Regions from separate parts of the Homo sapiens genome. Here region 2 is linked to region 1. A link means that fine-mapping ties the variant in region 1 to the expression of a gene that starts in the linked region. Tissue or cell type: whole blood. Region 1 holds a variant in brackets; the other region holds the start of a gene. All regions are shown on one strand. Distances are from middle to middle.

Region 1 (8,215 bases):
AAACAGGCTGGGTGCAGTGCCTCATGCCTGTAATCTGCATTTTGGGAGGCTGAAATTGGAGGCTCACTTGAGCCCAGGAGTTTGAGACCTGCCTGGGCAACATAGTGAGATCTCATCTCTACAAAAAAATTAAAAAATCAGCCTGTGTGCTGGTGCACACCTGGTGTGGAGGCTAAGGCAGGAGGGTCGCTTGAGCCCAGGAGGTCAATACCAACCTGAGTAATATAGTAAACCCTCATCTCTACAAAAAATTCCTTTAAATTAGCTGGGTGTGGTGGCAGGCACCTGTAATCCTGGCTACTTGGGAGGCTAAGGTGGGAGGATTGCTTGAGCTGGCAAGTTTGAGAGCGAAGAAAGAAAGAGAGGGAGGGAGGAAGGAAGGAAGGAAGGAAAGGAAGGAAGGAAGGAAGGAAGAAAGAAATAAAGAAAGAAAGAAAAAAGGGCCAGGTGCTGTAGCTCACACCTGTAATCCCAGCACTTTGGGAGGCTAAGTGGGGCTGGATCACTTGAGGTCAGGAGTTTGAGACCAGCCTGGGCAACATGGTGAAACCCCATCTCTACTAAAAATATAAAACTTATCCAGAAGTGGTGGCACGTGCCTGTAGCCCCAGTTAATCAGGAGGCTGAGGCAGGGGAATCACTTGAACTTGCACCACTGCACTCTTGCCTGGGAGACAGAGTGAGATCTATCTCAAAAAAAAAAAAAAAAGAAGGAAGGAAGGAAGGGAGGGAAGGAGGGAGGGAGGGAGAAAAGAGAGAAAGACCCAGGCTCTGGAAAGGCTGAGGTTTAAACCTCAGGTCTGCCCTGAGTTAGCTGTGTGACTTTTGACAAGTGACTTCCCTGCTCTGTGCCTCAGTTTCCCCATCTAGAAAATGGGGGGATAATAACAGTTGGTACATTAGAGAGTGGTAAATATTAAATGAGTTAAATATTTGGTGGGTGTCTGAAATAGCTCCCTGAGGGCCTAAGACTACGCCCCAAGTCAAGCAGGAGACAATCCTCTGACAGGGGAGGAGGAAACCAGGCTGCTGCCTCCAGGTCTTCCCTTCTCCAGGAGGCAGCATTCTCCCCACCATGCGGAAGGTTGCAGCTTCCAGCCCAACCTGCCTCCAGGTGGGATTCCATGAGCAAGCCCAGGCCTATGTCATCTGTATCGACCCTGTTGGATATAATAAAGCTTTCAGCCCCACCTGTTCCTCTTTCTTCCATTTCCCAACTTCTTTGAACCCAGCCAGACTCCCTGGAGTCACCAGCAGCTCACATTCAGCCAGATGAATCTGCATAAGACTGTGAGTTAGAAACGGTTCTTATTTCCATGTTACAAGCATATCCACTCCCGAAGTGTTTGCTGAACATCTATCTTGTTCCAGACACGGTGCTAGGGGCCGAGGAAGCATGAAGGCAAAATCCCTGACCTCGAGGCACTTACTTGCAAGTCAGGGGCAAGAGACAATAATTAAAACCAAAGTCAGAATCCCAGCACTTTGGAAGGCTGAGGTGGGAGGATCGCTTGAGTCCAGGAGACTGAGACCAGCCTGGGCAACATAGGAAGACCTTGACTCTACAAATAGTAAAGAATTAGCCCGGCATGGTGGTGGGTGCCTGTGGTACTAGGTACTTGGAAGGCTGAAGCAGGAGGATTGCTTGAGCTGGGGAGGTGGAGGCTGCAGTGAGCCATGATCGTGCCACTGCATTCCAGCCTGGGCAACACAGCAAGACCCCGTCTCAGCAAAACAAAAGTCAGTACGTAACAAGTAAGGGAAAATAAGGCTGAGGAAGAGGAAAAGAAGTTGCCAATGTATAGGTGGGAAAACCATGTTGAGAAAGTGACATTAGAGCAAATACTTGAAGGAAACATGGGAGCAGGTAAAGGGCTGGAGGTGGGAAGGTGCCCTCGTGTTCAAAGAGTAGCAGGGAGGGCTGAGCACGGTGGCTCACACCTGTAATCCCAGCACTTTGGGAGGCCGATGTGGGCAGATCACTTGAGGTCAGGAGTTCGAGACCAGCCTGGCCAACATGGTTAAACCCTGTCTCTACTAAAAGTACAAATATTAGCCGGGCATGGTGGCGGGCGCCTGTAATCCCAGCTACTCGGGAGGCTGAAGCAGGAGAATCACTTGAACCCAGGAGGCAGAGGTTGCAGTGAGCTGAGATCATGCCACTGCACTCCAGCCTGGGCAACAGAGCAAGACTCTGTTTCAAAAAACAAACAAACAAAAACTGAGGCCCAGAAAGGTTACATAACTTGCCCAAGGTCACACAGTAGGTGGTGAAGCCTGGATTCGAGCCCTGATTCTAGGCTCATAACCCCCTCAATAAATAGTACCTAACTGATATTGCTCATTTTTAGATTTCTAGCAACTTATAAGCTTTTCCCCACTTCCCCTGCTGCCCCCTAGAACCTCCAGGTCTCCTGCCTCAATGCTGAGCAGAACCAGCACCTCCGGGCCTCCCTCAGCCGCCTGCATCGGGTGGCACAGGTAACCCCTCCTGCTGGAACCAGCACCTCCGGGCCTCCCTCTGCCGCCTGCATTGGGTGGCACAGGTAACCCCTCCTGCTGGAACCAGCACCTCCGGGCCTCCCTCAGCCGCCTGCATCGGGTGGCACAGGTAACCCCTCCTGCTGGGATCTGGCTCCACTGCCCCTGCTGGACACCCGGGGCCCTGACCGTCGTCTCTGTCGCCATCAGTATGCCCGGGCCCAGCACGTGCGGCTCCTGGTGGATGCGGAGTACACCTCACTGAACCCTGCGCTCTCGCTGCTGGTGGCTGCCCTGGCTGTGCGCTGGAACAGCCCGGGTGAAGGCGGGCCCTGGGTGTGGAACACCTACCAGGCCTGTCTAAAGGTGTGCAGTGTGTTCCAGGAGGTACAGGCTGGGGTCCCCACACCCTGACCTACCAGAACCTGCCTGCGTGCCCTATAGGACACATTCGAGCGGCTGGGGAGGGATGCAGAGGCTGCGCACAGGGCCGGCCTGGCCTTCGGAGTGAAGCTGGTACGAGGTGCATATCTGGACAAGGAGAGAGCGGTGGCCCAGCTCCATGGGATGGAAGACCCCACTCAGCCTGACTATGAGGCCACCAGTCAGAGGTAGGCCCGGGCCAGCTGGCCTCTGCAGGAAATAATAACACCTAGTGGTTGGGTGCAGTGGCTCATACCTGTAATCCCAGTGCTTTGGGAGGCTGAGGCTAGAGATTCACTTGAGAGCAGGAGTTGGAGACCAGCCTGGGCAACACAGGGAGACCCCATCTCTAAAAAATTTTAAAAATAGTCAGGTGTGGTAGCACATGCCTGTGGTTCCAGCCACTTAGGAGGCTGAGGTGGGAGGATCACTTGAGGCCAGGAGTTCAAGGCTGCAGTGAGCCATGACTGCACCACTGCACTTCAGCCTGGGCAGCAGAGCGAGAATCTGTCTCAAAACAAACAAACAAACAAACAAACAAACAAAACAAAACAAAAAGAAATCCTTACAGTGGCCTCTAAGCCCCACATGCTCCCTGTCACTTCCCTAACTTTCCCTCCCTCTCTTCCTCTCCCTCACTCCACTACAGCCACACTGGCCTCCTCCATGTTACCCAGGGGCTTGGCACATCCTGTTTCCACTGCCTGGGACATTCCCACTGCAGACAGTGGCATGGCCCCATCCCTCACCTCCTTAGATCTTTACTTCTTGGTACCTTCTCTGGGGGCCACAGGGACTCAGCCAGGCTACAGAGCAGGTGGCCTAGCCACGCTTGGAATCCAGGCTCATGTCCAAGATCTGCAGGGGCTCCAGGGCACGTTTGTGTACCATCAGCTTAACTGGCACCAAGCCAGGCACAGTGGTGTGCACCTGTCATCCCAACTACTTGGGAGGCTGAGGCAGGAAGATTGCTTGAGCCCAGGGGTTTGAGCCCAATCTGCACAACATAGCAAGACCCCATCTGTAAAAAACATTAAACACAAAAAATTATGGCCGGGCATGGTGGCTCACGCTTGTAATCCCGGCACTTTGGGAGGCTGAGGCAGGCAGATCACCTGAGGTCAGGAGTT[T/A]GAGACCAGCCTGACAAACATGGTGAAACCCTGTCTCTACTAAAAATACAAAAATTAGCCGGGTGTGGTGGCTTGCACTGGTAATCCCAGCTACTTGGGAGGCTGAGGAAGGAGAATCACTTGAACCCAGGAGGCAAAGGTTGTAGTGAGCCAAGATTGAGCCACTACACTCCAGCCTGGGCGACAGAGTGAGACTCCATCTCAAAATAATAATAATAATTTGCACTATTATTTTAAATATTGAAATATAATTCACGTATCATAGAATTCACAATTTTAACATGTACAATTCAGTGGAGTTTAGTATATTCCCAAAATTGTGCAACCATCACCACTCTTTGATTCCACAATATTTTCATCACCCCAAAAAGTAACCTCATACCAATGAGCAGTCAGCTGCCTTCTGTTCCCTCCTCCCCTCAGCCCCTGGAAACCACTAACCTACTTTTTGTCTCTGTGGATTTGCCTATTCTAGACAATCTTATAAATGGAATCATACAATATGTGCCCTTGTATATTTGGCTTTTTTCATTTGTTTTTTAAGTTATTTTTGAGACAGGGTCTCACTCTGTCGCCCAGGCTGGAGTGCAGTGGTGCGATCTTGGCTCACTGCAGCCTTGACTCCCCAGGCCCAAGCCATCCTCCCACCTCAGTCTCCCCAGTAGCTAAGACCACCAGCGCACACCACCATACCCAACACATTTTTTTATTTTTGTAGACACGGGGTCTCCCTATGTTGCCCAGGCTAGTCTTGAACTCCTAGGCTGAAGCAGCCCTCCTGCCTTGGCCTCCCCAAGTGCTGGGATTATAGGCGTAAGCCAGCATGTCCAGCCACAACTGTGCATTTTAAAGGCAGACTAGCCTACCGATAAGGAGCCTGGGCTCTGGAGCATCAGACAGCCTGAGTTCAAATCCCAGCCTGGCCACCTCTAGCTGTGTGACCTGGGGACAAGAGATAGAACCCCTCTCAGCTTCAGTCTCCCCACTCTGTTAAAATGGAATAAGAACATCTGCCTCCCAGAGTTGATGTGGGAATTAGATGAGTGATTAGCTTTCTCCAAAGCAAACAGAATTCTGCACAAAGGGTTTTAACTAAAGGAAATGTGGTGAAGAGGCTGTTTATAGAAGTGTCAGGGGCCAGGTGCAGGGCCTCACACCTGTAATCCCAGCACTTTGGGAGCCCAAGGTGGGAGGATCGCTTGAGCCCAGGAGTTGGAGGATTCCGTGAGCCGAGATCACGCCACTGCACTCCAACCTGGGCAACAGAGTGAGACCCAGTCTCTAAAAAACACAAAACGAAAAGGAAGTGTGGGCAAAGTCAGGGAAGCTATTAGGAAGCTATTTTGACCCCTATGCTGTAGTTGAAGGAGAGGGGCCACCTTAGGGAGCTGTGGCCACACACAGAACACAGTCAGGGTGAGCAGGGAGGGGCCGAGGTGAGACACCCACACTCCTTCCTGCACATGACTCCATGGGGGATGTGGGGCAAAAGTGTCAGCTTCCTGAGGGGCAGAGAAGGGTAGAAAACAGGTCTGGGGGGCGATAGGGAAGACCCACAGAGGATGTGAAATACATAGCGTGGCCCGTGGCCTGCAGCATGCTTGCAAGGTGTTTGCCAATCTATTTCCTCTTCCATATCAGTACCCAGACAGTGTCTTCCTTCCTTTTCACAGTTGCGCGATAGAGCACTATCTTCTCTGTACCACAATTTCCTTAGCCAGTTCCCCATTTATGGACATTTGGGCTGTTGCTAGTGATGTTCTGTTGACAATGCAGCAGTGATAACCTTGGGGAAATGTCATCTTGTGCATGTGATGCGACCCTCTCCTGTGAGACCGCCGCCACTGTCCCAAAGACTTCATATCCCCCTTATCTCACTCCATCCTCACAACAGTGTTGCTCGGAAACTCACAGTGACAAGAGATTAACATGGGGCCGGGTGCGGTGGCTCACGCCTGTAATCCCAGCACTCTGGGAGGCTGAGGCGGGCAGATCACCTGAGGTCAGGAGTTCGAGTCCAGCCTGGGCAACATGGCGAAACTCCGTCTCTACTAAAAATACAAAAATTAGCCGGGTGTGATGGTGCACGCCTGTAATCCCAGCTGCTCGGGAGGCTGAGGCAGGAGAATCCCTTGAACCTGGGAGGTGGAGGTTGCAGTGAGCTGAGATCATGCCACTGCATTCCAGCCTGGGCAACAGAGTGACTCCATCTCAAAAACAAACAAACAAAACCCCCAAAAAACCCCAGAAGATGAAAGTGGCTCAGAGAAGTGATGTCCCTTACAACTGGTGCAGATGGAACAGAGTACTGGTTCCAGAGACCCCTTGCTTAGGAGCACCCCACCCACCCCAGTCGCTGGGGCCTGACCCTCGCTCACCAGGTGAGCTGAACAGAGCATCTCCCTTCAGTTACAGCCGCTGCCTGGAACTGATGCTGACGCACGTGGCCCGCCATGGCCCCATGTGCCACCTCATGGTGGCTTCCCACAATGAGGAATCTGTTCGCCAGGCAACCAAGCGGTATGAGGTGGAGGGATGGGCGGGAAATAGGTGCCCACAAAAGGGCCCTCCCTTCCTCTCCTTTGCTCAAATGCCAGAGATGGACAGAGGTGTTCTGGGGAGAATTTTAAAAATATTTATAGCCAGGCATGGTTGGCACATGCCTATAATCCCAACACTTTGGGAGGCGAAGGTGGAGGATTGTTTGAGACCAGCCTGGGCAACACAGCAAGACCCCATTTCTACAACAAATTAAAAAAAAAAAAACAGCTGGGTGTGGTGGCGCACACCTGTAGTCCCAGCTATTCCGGAGGTGGAAGGATCACTTGAGCCCAAGAGGTTGAGACTGCAGTGAGCAGTGCTTGAGCCACTGCACTCCAGCCTGGGTAACAAAGCAAGTCCCTACCTCTTAAAACAAACAAACAAACAAACACATTAACCCCTGCTATACCTGTAAGTCCTTATAGGTCCCAGATGGACAAGACGTTGCCCCTTATTTGCTGGGGCATGAGGAGGTCTGAGGGCTCCAGGGAACTGGCTGGGAGTCACTGGGGGACCTTCAAGGAATGCAAAGGACTGGTTATTATGTATCATTGAGTTTGGAAATACTTCAATGTTTGAATTACTGGAGCCGCCATATGGGTGCATAGTGGCTGACTTTAAGCTGTAGATGCAGCCACAGTCTGGACTGATGATGTGGCCTTTTCTGTAGCATGTGGGAGCTGGGCATTCCTCTGGATGGGACTGTCTGTTTCGGACAACTTCTGGGCATGTGTGACCACGTCTCTCTAGCACTGGGTATGTGAATGGCTCCCCCACCCCCATCAAGCCCCAGGCCTTACTCCCTCCCAGCCAGAGCCCTTCTCCTATTCCCAACCAAGGCCCAGCCTCCAGATCCTTCCAGAGAGATCTGTCATTCCAGTGTCTGTGGGCCTTCCAAGGCTGTGTCTCTGTGTCTGCCGTCTGTCATTTCTGCTGGTTCTTGATCATGGTGTATTATTTCTTGTGTGTTTTGTTATCTTTACTGTGCTGCTCCTCAGGGCCTGACACCAGGTAATTAATGTTTCCTTCTGCCAGGTGCTAAGCAGAACGAAATCACTTTATCCTAAATTCATAGCTTGAGGTTTCTTGAAACACCCCACTGGCACAAATTTGAGCTGCAAATACATAAGGGGGTTAACCCATAGCCCCAACTTCGCAGAGGTGGATTTTTCTGTTTTCTTCCTTGATCTGTTTATGGCCAAGACCATTTCCTGGGACTGGGGGAAGGTTGCAGGGTTGACTTTTTATTAACTCTTACTCTAAGGGTGTAGATTTTTGGGTTCCAGCTTAACTTGGGGAAGTTCTCCCTTATAACTCTCACCTCAGGCTTGAAGACTGACTCAATGTCCCCCCGCAACTCTGTGAATTCATCAGATAGCACCTCGGTTTTGCTTTTGGGGCAGAAGTGGCTTGCTGTGTGTCTCTTCTCTCTCTGGGTTCTCATTTTCTCTTTTATTTTATTTTATTTATTTATTTATTTTGAGACAGAGTCTTGCTCTGTTACCCAGGCAGGAGTCCAGTGGTGCCATCTTGGCTCACTGCAACCTTTGCCTCCCAGGTTCAAGCGATTCTCCTGCCTCAGCCTCCCAAGTAGCTGGGATTACAGACGGCTGCCACCACGCCCAGCTAATTTTTGTATT
Region 2 (8,000 bases), 56 kb after region 1:
TGTGTGAGCATCCTTGCATAGGCCCTTGGCTCCTTACCGACCCTCTAGGGCCACTGTCTACTCACTGGATCGCTGCGGCCCTCCCTCAGCCAGCCCATCATCCATCTCCCTCCTCTTCTTCCTCCGCTGGTGGGGGAAGCGGGCAGATGGCCTGCGTAGGGAGAGGGAGTGTCAGGACTGGGGTAGGAGCTGGGAGCCTCTAGTCAGCTGGCTGGGACCCTGCCACCTTACCTTTTGCCAGTGGCTGCGATGGAGCAGTCCCTGTGGGGAAAGACAGTTGACCCTCAGACAAACGCCTGTGCAAAACCCTGCAGAGGGCACCCTGGGGATACTGGTATCAAACCTGAGATGCTCACATGAACCCCACTTGCCTCTTGGGCCTTTTGTCCCACCCATACCCATGGGGGTCTAGGTGGCAACCACGGGGGGACCTAAGCTTCTCCTGCCACAGGGTCTTTGTACAGGTGGAGTGGTCCGGGCCACGATGGAGGTAGCGCTGGGCTGAGCGGTCAGGGCTTGGATAAGGAAAGAAGTTACCAACCACGAACTCTCAACTCCAAATCCAATCAGAAAAACTCACTTATTGTGGGTGTCTGAGGGTGTTTTCCCAGCTTCCTCATCCAGACGCTCCCTAGAGGCAGAAGAGATCTCTCAGCTCAGGGTTCCAGGGCCCCAGAGAAGGAAGGCACCGAGCAGCCTCCCCATTAAGCACCTTCCTCCCCAAGTCAGCCTGTGGGGTCCCACCCAATCCACCCAGGATCAGAGGGCCCAACCCACCAGGGTGCCCGGCCCTGTGACCCCACGCTGGCCTACCTGTCCATGTGACTCTTCTCCAGCAGACACTGCAAGACAGCATCCAGTTGGTTCCGGGCTTTGGCCATCTCCAGCTCTGGGGCAAGAGAGGACCCAGCAGGAGTCAGCTCCCAGGCCCCAGCTAGGTGGGCAGCTGACTGGGCCAGGGAAGGGCGTGCGTGTCCTCTGCCCTGGCCAATCTCAGAGCCAGGCCCAGGCAGCCTGAAAGGGTGCAACAGGCAGAGATGGCTGGAGTGATGCCCAGAGCTCTGAGTTCCAGAGCTGTCCCACGTGATTGCTCTGTGACAGGAGGTAAGGCCAATCACCTTACCTTATGAGCCTTTTGGGTTTTAAAAAAATGTGTTTTAATATAATATAAATTTATTACAAAAAAATTGTATAGAGATGGAGTCTTAATGATATTGACCAAGCTGGTCTTGAACTCCTAGATTCAGGTGAGCCATCTCGGCTTCCCAAAGTGCTGGGATTACAGGTGTGAGCCACTGTGCCTGTCCCAGTGGCAAGGTTTAAATATGCTATATATTACAAATAATAACCCACTGAATTATCACAATAACCCTTAGAGGTAGATGTGATTTTTTTTTTTCTTGAAAAAGGATATCACGATGTTGTCCGGTTTTGAACTCCTGGGCTCAAGCGGTCCTGCTGTCTCAGCCTCCCAAGTAGCTGGGGCTATAGGCACATGCCATAGAGCCCAGCTCAGATAGATATGATTTTTATTCCTATTTTAAAGATGATGAAACTGAGGCACAGAGATGTTAGGCCACGTGCTCAAAGGCACACAGCAAAGAAATTGCAGAGCTGATGATTTGAACCCAGGCTGTCTGGTTCCAAAGCTGAAGTTATGAGACAGAGGCTCAACCTGAGTGCAGAATCTGGTTGAGGCAGTGGTATAATTTTATTTTAATTAATTAATGTATTTCTGTTTTGTGAGACGGAGTCTTGCTCTGTCACCCAGGCTGGAATGCAGTGGCATAATCTTGGCTCACTGCAACCTCCACCTCCCAGGTTCAAGTGATTCTCCTGCCTCAGCCTCCCAAATAGCTGGGATTACAGGCGCCCGCCACCACGCCTGGCTAATTTTTGTATTTTTAGTAGAGATGGGGTCTTACCACGTTGACCAGGCTGGTCTCAAACTCCTGACCTCAGTGATCTGCTGGCCTCAGGCTCCCAAAGTGCTTACAGGCGTGAGCCACCATGCCCGGCCAACAGTGGTATAATTTTAAATCTGAATTCAATCTGAATGAGCTGACATTTAAAAATTGGGAGATTTCTTTCTTTTCTTTTTTTTGAGACGGAGTCTTGCTCTGTCTCCCAGGCTGGAGTGCAGTGGCGTGATCTCGGCTCACTGCAACCTCTGCCTCCTGAGTACAAGTGATTCTCCTGCCTCAGCCTCCCAAAGAACTGGGACTACAGGCGCGTGCCACCATGGTCAACTAATTTTTTCTATTTTTAGTACAGACAGGGTTTCACCATATTGACCAGGCTGATCTCAAACTCCTGACCTCATGATCCACCTGCCTCAGCCTCCCAAAGTGCTGGATTACAGGCAGAAGCCACCGCACCCAGCCAAAATTGGGAGATTTCACCTAAAACATCCTGTTTGGGCTTTTTTTTCCCCCTCGGGAAATGAGATCTAGGCCCACCTTCCTGCCCAGTTAGCCTGTGGCTGCCTCCCGTCATCACAGAACTTGAGGAAGTGATGATGTTACGCTGTCCTCCTACCTTTGAGAGGTGTTTGCTCTGCCTTTCTGACTGGTGGGAGCTCTGGCTCTAGTGCTCAGAGCCTGGAGGGGACACCTGGGAACTTGCCTGACCAGTCCAGGGACTTCCTGAGAAGCCCAGGAGACACAGGGATTCAAACATAGCTCAGAGGAGAGACAGAGTGAGGGTGGGGAAGGGAGTAGCTGAGATTGCAGCAAAGCCTTGGGCAGATGCAGAGGGTACGGATCACGTCCACAACTCTCCTCAGGCCCAGCCTCTCTCCTGAACCCCCGACTTGGGCCTGAAGCCTCCCTCTCAAGGGTCGCCTCACTGTCCCCAAGTCCCTCCCTGTACCTCACCATGGATACCCCTCTCCCTCCCCTACCCAGCCCACCAACCCCATGGCCTGTCCACTAGGCCTCCCGAGTGTCTCTCCCACCCACCTCCTCCCTACTCTACCCATCCTGGTCCTGTCCTTTGCTCCCCCTTGGCTCCCTGCCTCAGTGTCCCCCTTCTGATACACCCTCCACAAGGCAGCCAGGGGAATCTTCCTGAAAAATAACAAACCTGACCCTGATCTTCCCTTGCTTGGAAACTTCCATGACTCCACAGCACCCAGGGGTGGAGTCTGCACTCCTCAGCCTGGCACTCACAGGTGTACACCTTCCCTCACCATCATTTGTGGTCACACCCACTTCTCTTTTCTTTCTTTCTTTTCTTTTCCTTTCTTTTTTTTTTTTTTTGAGACAGGGTCTCAATCTATCACCCAGGCTGGAGTGCAGTGGTGTGATCTCAGCTCACTGCAACCTCCGCCTCCCCGGCTCCAGCGATCCTCCTGCCTCAGCCTCCTGAGTAGCTGGGACTACAGGCTTGTGCCACCACACCTGGCTAATTTTTTTTTTTTTTTTGTATTTTTTATAGAGACAGCGTTTCGCTATGTTGCCCAGGCTGGTCTCAAACTCCTGACCTCAAGTGATCTGCCAGCCTCGGCCTCCCAAAGTGTTGGGATTACAGGTGTGAGCCACCGCACCCAGCCTCCCACTTTGTTTTAATAACACTTTTGCCATGGGACATCCTACATCATTTTACTATTATCTTTCTGTCTAAATTCTGCACCCCTCCCACTGCCCTTACCATGCCAGGCCTGGGATCCGGTCAGCTCCGCCCCAACCCAAAATTCTCTCCTCTTTCTAAGCTTCACCCATTGACCACAGTTCCTATTTTCTAGGATTACTGGAATATAGTGACTGTGAGGATTAAGAGTGCCTGTACTTCAGGCTCACAGCAAGATGTGTGACTCTGATCACTGCTGGAAATGGGGAAACTGAGGGGAAGCCAAGAAAAGAGAACTTCTCGGCTGGGCGCGGGGACTCACGCCTGTAATCTCAGCACTTTGGGAGGCTAAGGCGGGAGGATCGCTTGAGACCAGGAGTTCGAGACCAGCCTGGGCAATATAGCGATACTCCGTCTCTATTTAAATATTTTAAAAATTTAAATTAAAAAAAAGAGGAAAGAAAAGGGCCCTTCTCAGAGTTACCGGCTCAGGATTCCCCATGTCCTACCACGCACGTCATTGCCCGAGCCACCCCATTCAATCTCAAAGCGACTTCAAGCGCACACCGGGAGGGTGTGAAGGTGGCAGGCAACGCTCGCTGCCTGATACAGCGATTGTCAGGTGGGCTTCAGGGAAAAGTCGTGCAGTCCCCTTTCCGCGATACTCCCTTCCACCGGGACTCCACACCCTGTCAACCCGATGGTCCCGACAGGCCCCCGACGTCAGGGTCCTCACCTGATTTCTCCACTTTCACCTTCACAGGGAACATGGTTTGGGTCCGGGATCTGGCTAGCTGGGTCAGAGGCGCCCCAAAGGGCCTAGGGTCACAAGTCAAGGCGGGAGAAGGCGGGGACAGTTCAAAGATGAGCTTCGTGGGCCACGGGTCCTCCGCCTTTGGTTGTGTCCAGCCTGGACCGTGGCCACCACCCTTCTGTGGGCGGGCCCCTTCGGCAGTAGCTTGTTCCTATTAGTTATTGCAGCCGTCAATCTCGCATCCTGACCAATTGAGAGCTGCCTCCGTAGTCTCCCAGCTTTAGGTCCCACCCACCTGGGGCTTTGCTTCCGGAAACAAACCATCTACCCCCTAGCTTCCTGGGAGGTGTAGTTCCAGCTTCCCAGACTCACCCTGAGTAACAGCGCCTGCGCCGCGCGGGGCACGGTGGGAAACAAAGGATTAGGGCATCGCGAGGCTTCCCGGGACTTGTAGTGTGAGAAGGGTTGAGCAACACCAAGTTAGCTCTTTACCGGATTTAACCAACCGTTGGGGTCCCTTCATCCCTAAGAGGAAGACTAATGTAAAATAACGTTGGGTTCCCTCTCACTGAGCACTCGCTAGGTGCCAGGTATCTGTTAATCTCTTTGCAGGTACAACTTCATTCATTTTGCAAATATTTATTAGTGTGTCGGGCACTCTTCTAGGCATTGGAGACACCTTGAGGAACAGAATAGACAAAAATCCCTGCGCTAATGGAGCTTATCTTTTAAAGGAGGGAAGATAAACAGTAAACAAGTAAATTTTAAGTGAAATGTAATAGGAGAAAGAATATGATCTGGGCGGGGCATGGTGGCTCACGCCTGTAAATCCCAGCTCTTTGGGAGGCCTAGGCAGGCAGATCACCTGTGACCAGGAGTTCGAGACCAGCCTGGCCAACATGGTGAAACCCAGTCTTTACTAAAAATACAAAAATTAGCCGGGCATGGTGGCATGCGCCTGTAATCCCAGCTATTCGAGAGTTTGAGGCAGGAGAATCGCTTGAACCCGGGAGGCGGAGGTTGCAGTGAGCCGAGATCGGACCTCTGCACTCCAGCCTGGGTGACAGAGCAAGACTCCATCTAGAAAAACAAACAGACAACAACAACAAACCCCTCTCCCCCCCCAAAAAAAAAACCCACAAAAAAAGTGTAGCCTGAAAGGGACATAGGAATATCAAGGTGGTGATTGAATTTTAAATAAGATGGATGGTCAAGGAAGGATTCTCTGAGAAAGCTCTTGACTATTTTTATTTTTGCAGACAACACTTCCTTCAGAAAACGGGAAACTTCCATTTGTCACACGTCTTGGTCCAGATAAATCCCAGGAAGTAGCATCGTGATCTACACTTCTGATGAGAATACTGCAGCCCACAGTAGGAAAGTTATATTTTTGAATTCACGACTACCAGTACAGGATAACAGCCCCTAGAAATGGAAGCACTAGGCCGATCCTACCACTGCACTCCAGCCTGGCTGACAGAGCAAGACTCTGTCTCAAAAAAAAAAAAAAAAAAGAAAAAAGAAAAAGAAATGGAAGCACTATTCCTTTCTTAGTTTCTCATCTAATAGTTTCCTGAGCAGGAAAGTTCCTAGTTCAGAAGATTATGAGTAGTATGCACTGTAAAAAATGTACATCATGTCTAAATACTAAGCCTCGTACAAAGCTCTCAACAGATGTTTTTAAATATTAATAATCATTTATGCCTCAACCTCTAAAAGATCCCAGGAAGTCAGTATCGAAAGTTAGGGTCCTTTATTGGGGGATGTCAGCAGAGAACGTGGGACATGAAAACAAGTCTTAGGAGTTTGAGAAGGGGCTCCCAGGACAGGCTCCTCTGCTTTAAGGAGCCTGTCCTGGGAGAATAAGCAGGGCCCCAGTATGTGCAGAAGTTGTCAGGGGGTGCCCAGGGGTATGGTGAAGGAGAGGTAGTCCCCAAGGGCACCCCAGCGGGGCCGGTAGATCTGGAAGATGGTGATCCAGGAGGTGAGCACTATCACCCAGAAGAGGAAGCCCACAGCTGAGCGCCAGACATCTGTCATGGGAAACAGAAGCTGGAAGGGTTGGCCTCCGGCTGCTCTCCAGACTTCCCTAGACCAGCCTTCCCTTCTCACCCAGAGCCCCAACATTTTGGATCCTCCATTGTCCCTTCCCACCAAGATTCCCCGCTTCCCCCTCTCCCCTGCCACTGGCCTCCCTCCTCTGTGCTCTAGACTCACAGCCTTTGATTTGGCTCTGTTCTGTGTAGGCTGGGACAAGGAAGGCCTCTCGGAAGAACCAGAAGATGTTGACCAACCAGAGAAAAGGCAGGAAAGCAAACCCCCCTAGGGAGAAAGAAAAACAAACAAACAAACCCCAAAACCTCATAAGGCAATGAAGATCTTCTCCAACTCCCACCGAGATCTATTTGGAAGAAACTCTCCCACACCCAAGTTCAAATGGAGATTTCTGTTGTCAGGGACTCAGGAATCTGGCTCCTCTTTGGGATCCAGGAATCTGATTCCTCAACCATCTCTTTCACAGGACCCAAGAGTCCAGGCCCTCAATCCCCCTCCTCTCTTGGGATCCAGAAATTGAGGCCCCAGCTTCCTCATTCCTCAGGACCCAGGCCCTCCCCACTCAAATCCAGGAGTCGGCGTTCGCAGGTCCTTCATCTCTTAGACTTAAGAATCCAGGCCCCGAGGCCCTCTTCCCTCGGGTGCTCTAGTCCAGTCCCCTCTCTTCTCCTGGGACCCTAGCGATCTGCCTTACCCAGGTAGTACTTCCGGCACAGGTTCAATTTCTCCTCATTGGACACTCGCTCCAGGTTCATAGCTGCGCTGGGGCCGGGTCGTCCCAAGGGTCTGCGGGGCAAGACCCAAGCCTTGACCCTAAGTAACAGATGCAAGGATCACGAACAACCACGCCCCTATTAGAACAAATCAGAGATAAATGTAAAGGTCGGTTTGCTGAAAGCAGGGCATCCCCACCCCCACTAGTAAGCTGGCTGGATTAAAGAGCTCTTTATATTTACTAGGGTGGGCGAAACGACCCCCAACTCACCAGGAGAGCTCACTTCCTCCGGCTGGGGTGCCTTAGCTACTTTCAGTTATGGACGTTTGCGCGAGACGCCCCAGGTTTCCCTGGAGATTGTAGTCTTCTTTGGGCGAGGCAACACTGCACGCATGCGCTGTTAAAAGAACTCCTACCGGGGAGTCTATGGGGAGGGCGCGCGCCTCCCACGCGCAAGCGCCCTGGGGCGTTTCCGAGCGCTTGGTAAGCGCCTGGAGAGGGCAACGAACTACACTTCCCAGTGCTCCTAAGCAACGGAAGTGACGTAAGAGCAGCCAGACCTGGAGGGCTTGGGTAAAAATGGCTGAATATTTAGCTTCGATATTCGGGACTGAGAAGGACAAGTGAGAACGGGCGCTGGGAGTGGACTCTCGGGGGGTCGGGGCCGGGGTACTGGGGTCCTGGGTGGTGGGGCGGTGTTTCTGGGGTGCCCAGCTTCCCCGGCCCTCGGTTCACCTTTGTCTTTGCACCTTTTCCAGGGTTAACTGCTCTTTTTACTTTAAGATCGGGGTCTGCCGGCACGGGGACCGGTGCTCCCGGCTTCACAACAAGCCGACATTCAGCCAGGTGAGACCCGGCACGGAGCCTCGGGGGTTAACGGCTCCCTGGCCCTTCCCCTTCTGGGGC

Evidence for each region. PIP is the estimated chance that this variant, and not a neighbour inherited with it, causes the effect.
Region 2: it holds the start of LIN37, and the variant in region 1 is fine-mapped to the expression of LIN37 in whole blood (TOPMed, PIP 0.97).

The regions. Positions count from the first base shown.
Region 1 is chr19:35,801,307-35,809,521 of GRCh38, reverse strand. It overlaps PRODH2 (proline dehydrogenase 2), which reads left to right. Exons shown (of 10, transcript NM_021232.2): 5 at 2,401-2,481; 6 at 2,692-2,847; 7 at 2,926-3,092; 8 at 6,444-6,554; 9 at 7,246-7,331. Among named protein-coding and RNA genes, the nearest start is that of PRODH2, 7.4 kb to the left of the region's middle. RefSeq lists an enhancer at 2,089-2,589. The variant T/A (reference allele first, on the strand shown) is at 4,035.
Region 2 is chr19:35,745,065-35,753,064 of GRCh38, reverse strand. LIN37 (lin-37 DREAM MuvB core complex component) reads right to left here and starts at 4,489. Exons shown (of 9, transcript NM_019104.3): 1 at 4,307-4,489; 2 at 814-889; 3 at 581-631; 4 at 232-261; 5 at 66-151. The coding sequence starts at 4,340. U2AF1L4 (U2 small nuclear RNA auxiliary factor 1 like 4) reads left to right here and starts at 7,647. Exons shown (of 6, transcript NM_001040425.3): 1 at 7,647-7,717; 2 at 7,853-7,940. The coding sequence starts at 7,674. It overlaps PSENEN (presenilin enhancer, gamma-secretase subunit), which reads right to left and starts at 7,414. Exons shown (of 4, transcript NM_172341.4): 1 at 7,365-7,414; 2 at 7,074-7,230; 3 at 6,542-6,646; 4 at 5,546-6,357. The coding sequence starts at 7,134. The coding sequence ends at 6,218. RefSeq lists enhancers at 4,240-4,359, 4,206-4,720, 4,760-4,819, 4,721-5,235.